Linked DNA regions of Homo sapiens: all the other regions are reported to be linked to region 1. The links are microRNA targets in miRTarBase. Many come from high-throughput screens and were not tested one by one. Region 1 holds a microRNA gene; each other region holds the end of a gene's coding sequence. Distances are from middle to middle.
What was found. The annotated mature microRNA hsa-miR-570-3p reads CGAAAACAGCAAUUACCUUUGC and lies in region 1 at 1,667-1,688, shown strand. An mRNA with a match to its seed (bases 2 to 7 or 8) in the 3' UTR can be bound and repressed. Matches are read on the target gene's strand: a 7mer-m8 pairs with bases 2 to 8, a 7mer-A1 pairs with bases 2 to 7 and ends in A, and an 8mer does both.

Region 2: miRTarBase lists VPS26B as a target of hsa-miR-570-3p. Seed matches in the 3' UTR shown: 7mer-m8 at 1,269-1,275 and 7mer-m8 at 799-805.
Region 3: the mRNA of P3H2 is a reported target of hsa-miR-570-3p. Seed matches in the 3' UTR shown: 7mer-m8 at 2,306-2,312 and 7mer-m8 at 1,672-1,678.
Region 4: miRTarBase lists CDC5L as a target of hsa-miR-570-3p. Seed matches in the 3' UTR shown: 7mer-A1 at 408-414 and 8mer at 2,799-2,806.

Annotation. Positions count from the first base shown.
Region 1 is chr3:195,697,794-195,700,932 of GRCh38, forward strand. It overlaps MIR570 (microRNA 570), which reads left to right and starts at 1,608; the gene lies at 1,608-1,704. All of the region lies in intron 2 of MIR570HG (MIR570 host gene), which reads left to right. LOC124909477 (a long non-coding RNA gene) reads left to right here. Exons shown (of 2, transcript XR_007096227.1): 2 at 1,237-1,277.
Region 2 is chr11:134,245,178-134,248,316 of GRCh38, reverse strand. It overlaps VPS26B (VPS26 retromer complex component B), which reads right to left. Exons shown (of 6, transcript NM_052875.5): 6 at 529-2,873. The coding sequence ends at 2,727. THYN1 (thymocyte nuclear protein 1) reads left to right here. Exons shown (of 7, transcript NM_014174.3): 7 at 1-35. Among named protein-coding and RNA genes, the nearest start is that of THYN1, 6.6 kb to the left of the region's middle.
Region 3 is chr3:189,955,419-189,958,557 of GRCh38, forward strand. P3H2 (prolyl 3-hydroxylase 2) reads right to left here. Exons shown (of 15, transcript NM_018192.4): 15 at 1,310-2,586. The coding sequence ends at 2,494. Among named protein-coding and RNA genes, the nearest start is that of MIR944, 130 kb to the left of the region's middle.
Region 4 is chr6:44,446,345-44,449,483 of GRCh38, forward strand. It overlaps CDC5L (cell division cycle 5 like), which reads left to right. Exons shown (of 16, transcript NM_001253.4): 16 at 263-3,139. The coding sequence ends at 367. Among named protein-coding and RNA genes, the nearest start is that of MIR4642, 12 kb to the left of the region's middle.

The DNA of each region.
Region 1 (3,139 bases):
CTCGTAGGGGCATAAAACAGCATTTAAACAGGATCAAGCTTTCCATTTTAAAACTCCATACACTCCCTTAATTTCATCTCCTCCTCCACCTACTGCCCCATGTCTCTCCCTCTTCCTGGCTAAACGTCTCAAAAAAGTGGATACACTTTCTGTCAACTCCTAAACACTCCTCACGCTCATTTGGCCTCTGCTCCTCCCTTCCTCCTCCCACTTCATTGGAACTACTTCTGCCAAAGAGGATCCCTGAGTCAGCCTGACTGGTAACCCCAATGGACTCTACTCAATATGCAACATCCTTCACTTCTTAGCAGAGTTTGAAACAGCCTGACTCTCCTCTTCTGGCAACATTCTTTTCCTTGGTTTGGGGACGCTGTACTGTTCTGGTTTTGCCCCTCCCTCCGAGCATTCCTTGTGTTTGTCCTGGCCCATTTTCTCCTCTCATTCTACATCCTCTCCCCGGGGATTTTAGCTTCTCTCACGGCTCAGGTTACCATCTCCATAGTGATGACTATCAAATTCTGTACCTCATTTCCAGAGGCTCCTGACAGACTTGCTTGGTCAATATACTACTGGACATATTCATGAGACTGTCTCACACAGGCATCTCGAACCCAGTGTGTCCCACAATTCTCTTCCTATCCATGCCTGTTCCTCTTCCACTGCCTCATATGTCGGTGACTGTCCACCTTCTCTCTCTCTCCCCCTCTCCGTTTGGCTCATAGGAAAAGTGTCACCAAGGGCTGTAAGTGCAGATTTCTAATTATCCCCTAAATTTGAACATTTTTCCTCTCGAAAGTGTATGGCCATTACCCTATTACAGATCAACATCTTCAATCACTGGAATGATGGCAATAATCTAATTGGGTTCATTTTATCCTCTATCTAACAATGACAACTCATTGCCTACACAGCAGGTAGAAGGAGTTTGTTTTCAGAATTGCCCTCTGACCTATTTAAGACGCTCAGATATTCCCTGAGGCTCCTTGGCCTGGCCACAAAGGCCCTACACATTCTGGCTGCTTCCTCCTTTCCAGCATCCTCTCTCACGTCTCCTCTCCTCAGTTCCACCCTCAGGAGGCACCAGAATTCCTCACTTCTTTGACTACAAGGCACCGTCTTACTCCCAAGACCAGTGAATCCGAAGGTGGACCACCAGCTGAGGGACTAGATTCCAGACTGAATAGAACAACTTTCCCTGTCTCTCCACATAAAGTGTGTTTGTTTTTCCTCTTACAGGTTTCCTTAATGACAACAAAAAAGGGAGTAATCCTACCCACTGTAAGAGTCATGACTCTTGATTGCAGCTGACAGAAACTCATGACAGCCTGCTTTAGATGAAGGGGGAGAGAAGGACTGGAAGAATCTTGGAGTTGGGAATGTCACACGTAATTGAAGGAAGAACAAGAAAACTATAGTAAAGAACCCTGGGGTGGTGATGTAGTCATGGGCCAAGTGTCCTGGAACCCTGGGGTGGTGATGTAGTTGTGGGCCAAGTGTCCTGGAACCCTGGGGTGGTGATGTAGTCATGGGCCAAGTGTCCTGGAACCCTGGGGTGGTGATGTAGTTGTGGGCCAAGTGTCCTGGGTTTTGGGTGGAGAAAGAGTCCCCTAGATAAGTTATTAGGTGGGTGCAAAGGTAATTGCAGTTTTTCCCATTATTTTAATTGCGAAAACAGCAATTACCTTTGCACCAACCTGATGGAGTCCCCCTTGCCATGCTTCTCTCTGTGAAAAACCCCAAGCCGAAGTCAGCATAACATCCACAGGACTCTATGTTTGCAAAAGCCAGCTTAGCTATATTACATGTATAAGCACATTTTTTCAATAAGTCAGCCTTAGCTTACTGTAACTTTTTAACTTTATAAACTTAGTATTTTAACTTTTTAAACTTTTTTGTTGAAAACTAAGACACAAAAACACATGTTAGCCTAGATCCACACAGGGTCAGGGTCATCAGTATCACTGTCTTCCACCTCCACATTTTGTCTCTCTGGAAGGTCTTCAGGGGCAATAACACACATGGAGCTGTCATCGCCTGTGGTAACAATGCCTTCTACAGTACTTCCCAAAGGGCCTGCTAGTTCACTTAATTCTTTTATAGAGAGAAGGAGTACACTCTAAAACACTGATCAATAGTATATTATAGTAAATACATAAACCAGGAACACATTTATTATCATTATCACGTATTGTGTATTGTACAGAATGGTGTGTGCTGTGCTATCCAGGAACACATTTATTATCATTATCAAGTATTGTGTACTGTACAGAATGGTGTGCGCTGTGCTTTTATGCAAGTGGCAGCACAGTAGCTTTACACGAGCATCACTAGACACATGAGTAGCATTGCACTCGGCAACAGGAATTTTTTCAGGCCCATTATTATAATCTTATGGGACCGCATCCTATATGCAGTTTGTCATTGACCAAAATGTCCTTATGCGATGCATGACTATATTTGCAAAGGACTAGTATCTAGAATACATTTAAAAGTCTTAAAATAGTAACAAAACAAAGAATGCAATTAGAACATGAGCAAAAGATACAAAGCAACATTTCACTGGAGAAGATATACAGATTGCAAATAAGCACATGAAAAGATGTTTGATACCATTAGGGAAACGCTTCTTTAAACCAGGAGATATCACCACGTGTTAGAATCAACAAAATAAGGCCAGGCATGGTGGCTCACACCTGTAATCCCAACACTTTGGGAGGCTGGGGCAGGCAGATCACATGAGATCAGGAATTCAAGACCAACCTGGCCAACATGGCAAAACCCTGTCTCTGCTGAAAACACAAAAATTAGCCAGGTGTGGTGGCACACGCCTGTAGTCCTAGCACCTTGGGAGGCTGAGGCAAGATAATTGCTTAAACCCAGGAGACGGAGGTTGCAGTAAGCTGAGATCATGCCACTGCGCTCCAGCCTGGGCGACAGAGCAAGATTATGTCTCAAAAAAAAAAAAAAAAAAAAGAATCACCAAAATAAAAAATAGTAACAATACTATTGTCAAGGATGCAAAGGAACTGTACCACTCAATCACTGCTGTGAGAATTTAAAGTGGTGCAGCCACTCTGGGAAACAGCTTGGCTGTTTTTTTTTATGACTGAATGTGCAACTACTATATGATGCAGTAATT
Region 2 (3,139 bases), not on the chromosome of region 1:
TTGTGTACTTTTTTCAATAAAATATCAAAGTTGAAGAACTTTTCTTCTAAAACCACACTGAGTGCAGTGGGATACTCCCCACTGCAGACCTCTTACCTCCAGGCGGGCTCCTTTGGCCGCTCCCAGATGCAGAGCTGCCTCCACCTTCTTTCTTTACGATCACTAGTAGTTCTGTAGCAAATTGCATGACGTAGGGCTGAGATCCTCAGTCTGGTAACACCCACTGGAATGAACTCTTCTTTCTACACCAGCCTTGCTCACCTGCCCCTTTCATCTTCTGGGTCCCACAGAGGTTTAAACCATCCCATGAGCAGTTCTGGATAAACTGCCAGATAGGGATAAGAACTGAATTCATTTCTCAGCCATGTGCTTGTCTCAAACAGGTGGCTAATAAAGTATTCATCATTTTTCACCCGGGGCTATACAGTGAGAGCACAGGCACTATGTAGGGAAATCAGGGCAGGGATCTGTCTTTCCCTGAGTGTCGGAGTTGGGACCATGTAAGACGGAAGAGACCACAGAACTTGGTGGACCGTGGGCACAATGCCTCCAAAGCCACAGGGGCTTTCTTTAATCAGAAAGACCATTAAAACAAACGTTCTTCTTTTAATACAGCCATTGAAAAGATGACACATTAAGAAACATGTAAACACTGCAGCTGCTTAATTACAAGTTGCACTGCTTGATTTAGTACCTATGCACTCCCAGGTTTGGGGACCTTAAGAGAGGGGGACAGGAGCCTCCCCTCACTTTCACAGTTGGATAGAGAAGGCAAGAATGTGGGTAGAGTAAGAAAGAGAAAACAGAAGACCTGGCTTGTGCACAGCGCCTGAGAGAATCAAAGCAAATTCTGTCTTCTAGTTCTCCCAGAAGAAAGGTTTAAGATGTTAGGAAGGTTGGAAAATGAACGTGTGTTGTCAGTTGGGAGGCAAAGGAATTGACAAATGCTTCTAGTTAGAATATCAGCTAGGAAAAGGAGGGATACAGAGCCTGACCTCATGCTCTGAAAAGGCAAGGAACCCAGAACTTGCCTCCCTTATCCACTTAAGCCCCAACCTTGATCATCAAGGGCAGCGCATGGGTGATCCTGTTCCCATGAGGATTGTGTGTCGCACCTGAACACAGGACACAGCGTGGGGGAAACAACCTTGCCTTCCTCGGTTCTGCTGCCGCCAGTCGCCCTCCTAGGCTACCCAAAATGCCTCTCCCTCCAGTCTCAGCTCTGATCCATGAGCCCTGCCAAAGGCCTGAGACTGCACTGATCTCAGGAAAACAGAAGTCTTCCTTTCCCACACTAACTGAAAGGTGACACAGGAACCAACTCCTTAACTTTCCAAATTACTGAGAACTCAGACTGCCAAATACCGTACCTCTTGGCCAGTGGGGCCTGCTTGGTCTTTCTATAAAGGGAAGGGAGGCCAATGGGAGAGTAATGCCTGTCATTTCCAGGGGAAGCAGAAAAAGGACAGTAAACAACTTTACTACCATAGGCCCCAGCGCAGAGCCGTAGAGGGAGAAGTACCTTCCTCTCTAGCATAACAAGAATATTCACAAGAGTTTTTTTATATGTGTTTTTTAAACACACGATACCAATGGTCCTAAACTTGGGTCAGTCAACTGGTGAAGATGACCTATTTGGCAAGCAGAATGATTCGGAAGTGTGGCAGCAGTCTTCTGCCGAGGCCCTGGTCTCCCCTGTGTAACCTATAGGGAGAGGGGTAAAGGGGCTTGGGCATTAGTAAGAACAGCCTTGCCAAAGGTTCGAAACTAAGCCCCAATTCCCAGAAATGAAATGGAGGGTGAGGAGAGACGAGGGTTCACTCTCAGCAAGGCGGAGGGATCAAGGCCCCTTCCTGGGATTGGTTCTTCAGGGAACCAGGCCCTCTTGTTAAGGGCTTGCTGGGGCACGTGAAGCAATACCTAGAACAGCCCAGACCTTGGGGTTACCAAGTGGAGCGACGTGAAGGCAGGCGGTTGCCATGCACTCATCTTCCGTGGTGGGCCGGGTTCAGCCTCCTGGGTTCAACACTGCCGCCATCCGTGCACGACACTGACCCCAGGGCTTCTCCGTGCCCAAGGCCATCCCACAGGCTTCTGTTCCAGGACATTACTGACAATCCAGAGAGGATGGAGAAGGGAGGTGCCTGGGTCCCAGCAGTGAGTGGCCAGAAGGAGGTGGCCTGTGGGAACTTGAGATCACCACATCCAAGATTCCCAAAGAGGTAGCTTCCCAATCGTGAGTCTTCCCCTGCCACTTAGTGGGGGCTGGCCCAACTCCTGCCACTACCTCCGGGACAGCAAAGGGGAGTACAAGATGTGACTACCCAGGGCCCTGTTGGCAGCTCAGAATCCCAGGGACATGCTCAGATCCTGTATCAGGAAGCTCAGAGAGCCAGGAGCCAAGGATGCGTGCTCTCTGCTCTCCCTCCTCTAAGACGCAAGGCAGCCCCCCGAGGAAGGGGGCTCATGTTCCCCAGAGAGGCTGGCTTCCAGGATGCTACCTCTTCTATCCCACATCGGCCGCAGAATCCCAAGGAGAGACTGCTTCCCACCCCAAGCCCCTTGGGTTCTCCAGAGAAAAGAATTTAAGTCAAAAACATGATTTGTTTTCAGGTTGCAAGTAACGGGTCAACTGAGCCTCACAAGGTCCGCCCCCGCCCCCAGCCGCTGGTGTTGGTAGATGGGGGTGCTGGGTGGGTGCCCAGCATCTTCTCGGCCCTGGGGGCCTACTGCCTGCAGTTGTTGTCAGACAGCTGGCTGGGGGTCCGCACCTCACCCAGGGAGGTGGTGCCCTCAAAGCGCTGTGAGGCGATGGCCGCCTGGTGGGACATGCTCTTCCGTACGATGTCACCCTTCCGCCACAACACCACTTCCTGCAGAATTGAAAGGGGGGCAATGTGACACCTTAGAGGGAGGCATGGGGACAGGTTTCCTAGAGGCTCCCAACTTTGACGTGGGGAATCTCGGGCAAGGACCTCCTCTGCTTCTCTCTCACCAAAGGCAGCAGCTGCCAGCACCTCCCTGTCCCTGGTGTGGGCCAAAAGGGCAGGTGGTTGCAGGAGAAGGCCCGAGGAAGCAGACTCTAAGGCCAGGTGAGAATCCTCATTCTTGTTGTGCAATTGTGGGCGACCTAATGTTC
Region 3 (3,139 bases), 5.7 Mb from region 1:
GTGATGAAGTCCCTGCCCCTCCCCTAGTGCCCATCGCACCCAGGAAGTGGGAACTTTAAGGAGCCAAACAAAGACTGTTTCTATGTTGATGCCTTGTTGCCAGAAAACAGAAATCAGATCCTCACCCAGATCCTCCAATCAGCAAATCTGAGTGCCAACAAGCTCTTCACAGTGGGAGGACAAATAGCAATCTACCTTTGCAAAGCTCAAGAACTTTTAGGTCTAAATTTGGGTTTACGTTTTTAAAAATCAGGTACACACATAAAAAACCCATTCACGGCCGGGCACAGTAGCTCACACCTGTAATCTCAGCACTTTGGGAGGCCAAGGCGAGTGGATCACCTGAGGTCAGGAGTTCGAGACTAGCCTGGCCAACATAGTGAAACCCCATCTCTACTAAAAATACAAAAATTAGCTGGGCATTATGGCAGGCGTCTGTAATCCCAGCTACTCAGGAGGCCGAGGCAGGAGAATTGCTTGAACCCGGGAGGTGGTGGAGGCTGCAGTGAGCTGAGATCACACCACTTCACTCCAGCCTGGGCGACAGTGAGACTCCGTCTCAAAAACAAAACAAAACAAAACAAAACCATTCACAACTCTCTAAATGTTAGCAGAAATAAATTTGGTTGTGACTATTTCTAAAATGGTTTTGGTTTCTTTTTTTTCTTTTTGCTTTGTTTGTATTTTGAGTAGGAGGGAGGGCCTTGTTACAATCAATTATGTCATTTTCAGAGAAGGGAACTAAAGTCTGGAAAGGGAAAGAGAGTAGTTCCATATCACACAGCAGGGCATATTTGATAGAACTGGGAGGATAATCCAATGCTCTTTCCACTCTCCCATGATTAAAATACAACCAGAAGGTTCAGTAAAAAACAGATGGTTCATACATCACTAACTCAAATTTTCAATTTCAATGGATGAATGTTCTTACCACTCACCAGATTGTAAACGGCAGAAAGTAAATCTTCCCTCCACCACTGCCCGTCATAAAAGCATGTGATCTCCCACGGGCGAATGATAAAGTCTCCCCTAGGTTAGAAGAACCCCATCCCCCATGAACTATGCCTTTGTAGTGTCTTTCTTAGAAGTGGGACCTGGAACCAAGCATTCTCTGGATCAATGCCCAGTTTGGTCTCCATCTCTGTTCTTCAAGAGCAGTGTCCCCACCTTTCCTGAGGCCACTGCACCAGCAACACTAGTCATGTCCCAATGTTGCCCCTAAAGTGGTCCCAAAAGCTCCTATGTAATTACAAAACCATTCTGTGAAGATAAAGCAAACATTTGGGAGAACAAAAATAAATGCCAGATATTAAAATAAGCCTCCCTTTATTAAACAAATCAGACACAAGCACAAATCTGTGTGCTGGATAGCAGCAATGAGGAGGGGCCCCCAAAATATAAGCAGATGACGGTTAAAATCAATCAGAAATTTATTTTTCTTATGTAAGTACAAAACACCTCTTTTCATCAGTGGACCCCACTCCTAGGCAACCTGGCCATGGTGCCCGGATGCAGGCAGTATTCAAGAGTTTCTTCCAAAGTCACCAGGGTGAAAAGCCATTCTACTACAACCTCTACATGACCTTTTAAAGTGTACAACTTATAGGACAGTCCTTTCTGGAGTACTGTGGAGGGTGAATCAAAGCTTCCAGTGTAAGTTTATTGTCTGGCGAAAACACCAGAGCCAAAAATTCCACCAAGGCCCTGGAAAGACTGAAGTCCCCTCTGTCTCATACAGTAATCATCCATGAGATCTCCCGGAGCCTGGGTGATCATTACGCCCATGATACCTGAGGCAGCGTGGACTCTGCCAGGGGCTCCTCAGACCCAAAGTGGAGCTCACTTTGGAGAGTCGGAGCTCATGGCCGTTAGCACCTAAGGATGTGGCTGAAAGGCACAGAGCAAGAAAGGGCTTCAGAGACCAGGCACAGGTTAATTTTAGAACTGGAGCACACGTGAGAGTTGTAGTTTCACCACCAAGAAGCTTATTCTCTCTAAGCTTTTGAATTTGCAGCAACTTAATTGTGTGTGTGTGTGTGTGTGTGTGTGTGTGTGTGTGTGTTTGGGGGAGGAGGTGAACTGGGCTTTGATAGATACATGAAATGATGAAAAACCAAGAAAGAGAGCTGGGTGTGGTGGCACGTGCCTGTGGTCCCAGCTCCCCGGGAGGCTTGAAGGATCGCCTGAGCCTAAGAGTTTGAGGCTCCAGTGTGCTATCATCACATCTGTGAATAGCCACTGCCCTATATCCTAGACAACATGGTTAGACCATGTCTCTAAGAAGAGAGAGAGAGAGAGAGAGAGAGAAAACAACCCAAAACAAGAAAGATAGATTGATAGATTGAGGCAACACAAGCATCCTTAGGAAGAGAAGGAAGATCTGATGACTGACATTAACCTGTTAATTTATACCATGGCTCTGTACAAAAATAAAAAGGTTCTCATAAGATTAACAATTTAAATAAATATTTGATAGAACATTCTTTCTCATTTTTATAGCTCATCTTTAGGGTTGATATTCAGTTCATGCTTCCCTTGCTGTTCTTGATCCAGAATTGCAATCACTTCATCAGCCTGTATTCGCTCCTGCAAAAAAGACAATTTACACATTTCTGTTACAAGCATAATAATCAGTCTCATCAGCAGACGCTTCCCAAACACTTCCTGGCATCCATCTGTACATGGGTTGATGCTATATCCAGTTAAGCATTGAACACCTCCTCTTCATCCCCAGACAGATGCCTTCTCCTAACATTCCTGGGTCCTAAGCAATTACTTTCTAAGATTTTCTCTCCTGCAAAGAACGACTGTATGTTCAACTGCTTCCTACTCTTTCTAATTCATGGCCCCATAGCCATCTCCAACTCAGTTCAGTGGTCAAGCTGAATTCACCATTTTCTCCCCAAGAACCTGCTCTGTTCTTCACGTAGGCTCTCTCTCGGTAAAGACCAACATCGCTCACCTATTTGCCTTAAAAGCCCGACCATGGTTTCCTGCATCTGATAAGTCACCTATTCTGTTCTATCTGCTGTCTCTGCCCCTTTCTCCTCAATGCACTATTGTTGCCGGAGTTTAGGTCAGGGTTTCTCAATTTTGGTCTGATTGACATTTTTAGACCAGATAATTATTTGTTGGGGGG
Region 4 (3,139 bases), not on the chromosome of region 1:
TTGAAGTGCATTTGTGGGTATTGATAAGACAGTAGTGGTTTGTTTATTTGAAGTAGCAGCAGGATTTCATATGACCAAATCAAAGAATGGCTGTGATACTGGTTTTATAGCAAAAGTATTTGATATGTTTGTTTCTCTTTGAGAAATATTTAACTCTTAAGAATCATGATTTAACTCAGCTGGTTTTTAAGATAATAAAGTACTGTAGATTTTTTTCAGTATAGTTACATCTAAAATAATTACTTAATTTTTTTTCTTTAAGTGTCTAAAAGAAGACGTTCAGCGACAACAAGAAAGAGAAAAGGAACTTCAACATAGATATGCTGATTTGCTGCTGGAGAAAGAGACTTTAAAGTCAAAATTCTGAAGTACAGTTTATATTCTGTCACAGGATTAATTAATTGCCGGTTTTCATACTCTAGAAGGCTGAAACTGATGTTTATCTTCATTGACAAATTTACCCACCATCTGTGGTTTTTCAGTTGTTTATTTTAAATGATATCGATCTTACACATTCTGTGTATAAAGACCTTAACTCCACAGGACGGACATTTTAGAGTTTAAATTATTAAGGCTATCATTCTTTTAGTAATGTCATATTTGCAAACTTTTTTAGTTTTGGCCTTTAATTTAAAAAGCCTAATTTTAAAGTGCTGCCTGTGAGTAACTCTTGAATAAAAACAAAATATAAAAAATTGAGAATGTAGCCTTTTGTTTGAAGTAATTAGATACTTAAGAGTGCCTGCAAACCAGCAGCTATGTACTCTGTGTCATATTTAATGAGTAACTCTTGGGTAATCAAAATGGTGATGCAGTATCTTAAACACTTAAGAGGCAGTTCTTTGTGGCTTTGTTAGTTTCAGCAAAGAGTGGTCATTTCTGTATACACTGACAAGTTAGATTAACTTTTTAGTACCTCAAATTTTTTTTTTGTTAATATCACTTTAAAGAAGGTCTCTTGTCTGCCAGCTACTTAAATAATTTATGGGTCAGGGCTTAAAAGATTTAACTTCCTTGCCCCATTATTTTCTTATAAGTATTTTTTGACAAAGGCATTTTAAAAGTTAATTTCAAGAAGGCCATCAAACTTAAAGCTCTATGTTTAGCCTAAGAAGTCAGTTACATCAGTGTAGAATTTGGGGAATGGATAGAGGTGGAGATATTTAATTTTATATAATTCATATAAATTGATTTAGTTACAGTATCAGTTGGCTACAAGCTCATTATAGACTAGCAATGTTTTGACATCACCAAAAACGTTTGCCCAGTCTTAGAATACTAGGGACTATAGGAAGGGAAGGGATTCATTCATTCATTCGATATTGAATGTATACCCTGTGCCAGAGTCTTAGAGAGAGAACAACAAACAAAATAGGCCTAGTTCTTGTTTAGTAGAGCTTATAGTCTTTTGAGAATGACAGACAATTAAAATCCAAATGTTTATTTGGTGATTCTTATGTGTCAGACACTTAAGTGTTGGGAGATAAGCAGTTATTAAGACAGAGTTCTTGCTCTCATGGAGGTGACATTAGTGGGGAGGAGATACTAAGTATGTCCAGGGAAAGTATCAGACCATGAGTTTTAGATTCTGTGGAGGAAATTAAAGTAGGGTGATTATGAGATAGTGAATGAGTGGCTATTTTAGACTGGACGATCAAAGAGACCTCTTGGAAGGCAGCTATGCTCACCACTATACCACTGCACTGTGCCGCACCGTACCACTATAAGCTGCACGGCCAAAGAGACCTCTTAAAGAAGTAACATTTAAGATAACATGTGATTGACATTTTAGAATGGGCTATCCTTGTGAGATTCAAGGAAAGAACATCCTAGGTGGAGTGAATAGCAAACATAAAGCCTCTTTTGTATGTTTGAGGAACAAAAAGGACAATGCAGCTAGAGTGTCAAGAATGGCATTTCTGTATATAAGACCTCGTTGTATAGAGCCACATAAATAAGGCTATAATAAGGAATTTGGATCTTACTTTAAATATGATAAGAATCGATGAGAAGATCTAAGCAAAGGAATGACATGATCAGATTTGGTTTTAGAAACATCACTATCTCCTTAGTGTGTAAAATCTCACCAGGCTGGAGATAGGGAAGCCAGTCCAATTAGGAGCCTGATGCAGTGATCCAGACAAAAAAATAATAGTGATTCTAACTAGAGTCCAGGTAATAGTAGTGGAGATATGTGGAGAGACATGATAGGTATATACTTAATAGTCTTATCAGACGATAAATTGATATTTTCCTGGTGTGTAGTCACTTAATTCAAATACTTTTTTCAGTAAGTTCTGGGTTTTCTAGGAAAAACTTCAGTATCATCAGTGAATAATGATAGTGTTTCTTCTGATAGTTTTATTTCACTTTTATTGCATGTTTTGTTATCTGAAATGTTTAGGACAATGTTAACAATAATGATGTTAGACATTTTTTTTTCTTATTTTAATGGGAATGTCCATAGTTTTAAGTTTGCTGTTGGGAGTTAGATAGTCTTTATCTGAAAGACAGTGTCTCTCTTTTAGTTTTTAAAGAGTTTGAATTAGAAATGGCTCTGGAACTTTAAACAGTATACCATTTGGGCATCTATTAAAGCATTCATATAATTGTTCTCATTTGATGTTTTGATGAGGTATATTAATAGATTTTCCCACATTAAATCATCTTTGCACTCCTGGAATCAGGTAGATTAATTTTTAAAAGAAATTTTAAAGGATTTATAGTTTATTTGCACTTTTTGTAGACTTGAATTATATGGATTTAAAAGTTGATCTAATATTAATAAAGGCTCACTTTGTTTTCAAAATTTGAAGTAATTCACATACTTATAGCCTAAAAAAATCGGCAGGAATTACAAAATTTCAAAACTGGCACATTGTAAACTGCATATGCATTTGCCAGGTAGTGGTGCCACTTGAAATGGTGAACAGACACACTGTTATCCTTTGTCAGTATCCTGTAAAGCCCAGGATTCTTTACCAGCACCATACAGCGATTTTGGTGACTATTTTAACATTCACACTGAGGCCAGGGGTGGTGAGTCATGCCTGTAATCCTAGCACTTTGGGAGGCCAAGGTGGGAGGATCATTTGAGCTCAGGAGTTCAAGATTAGCCTGGGTAACATAGTGAGACCCT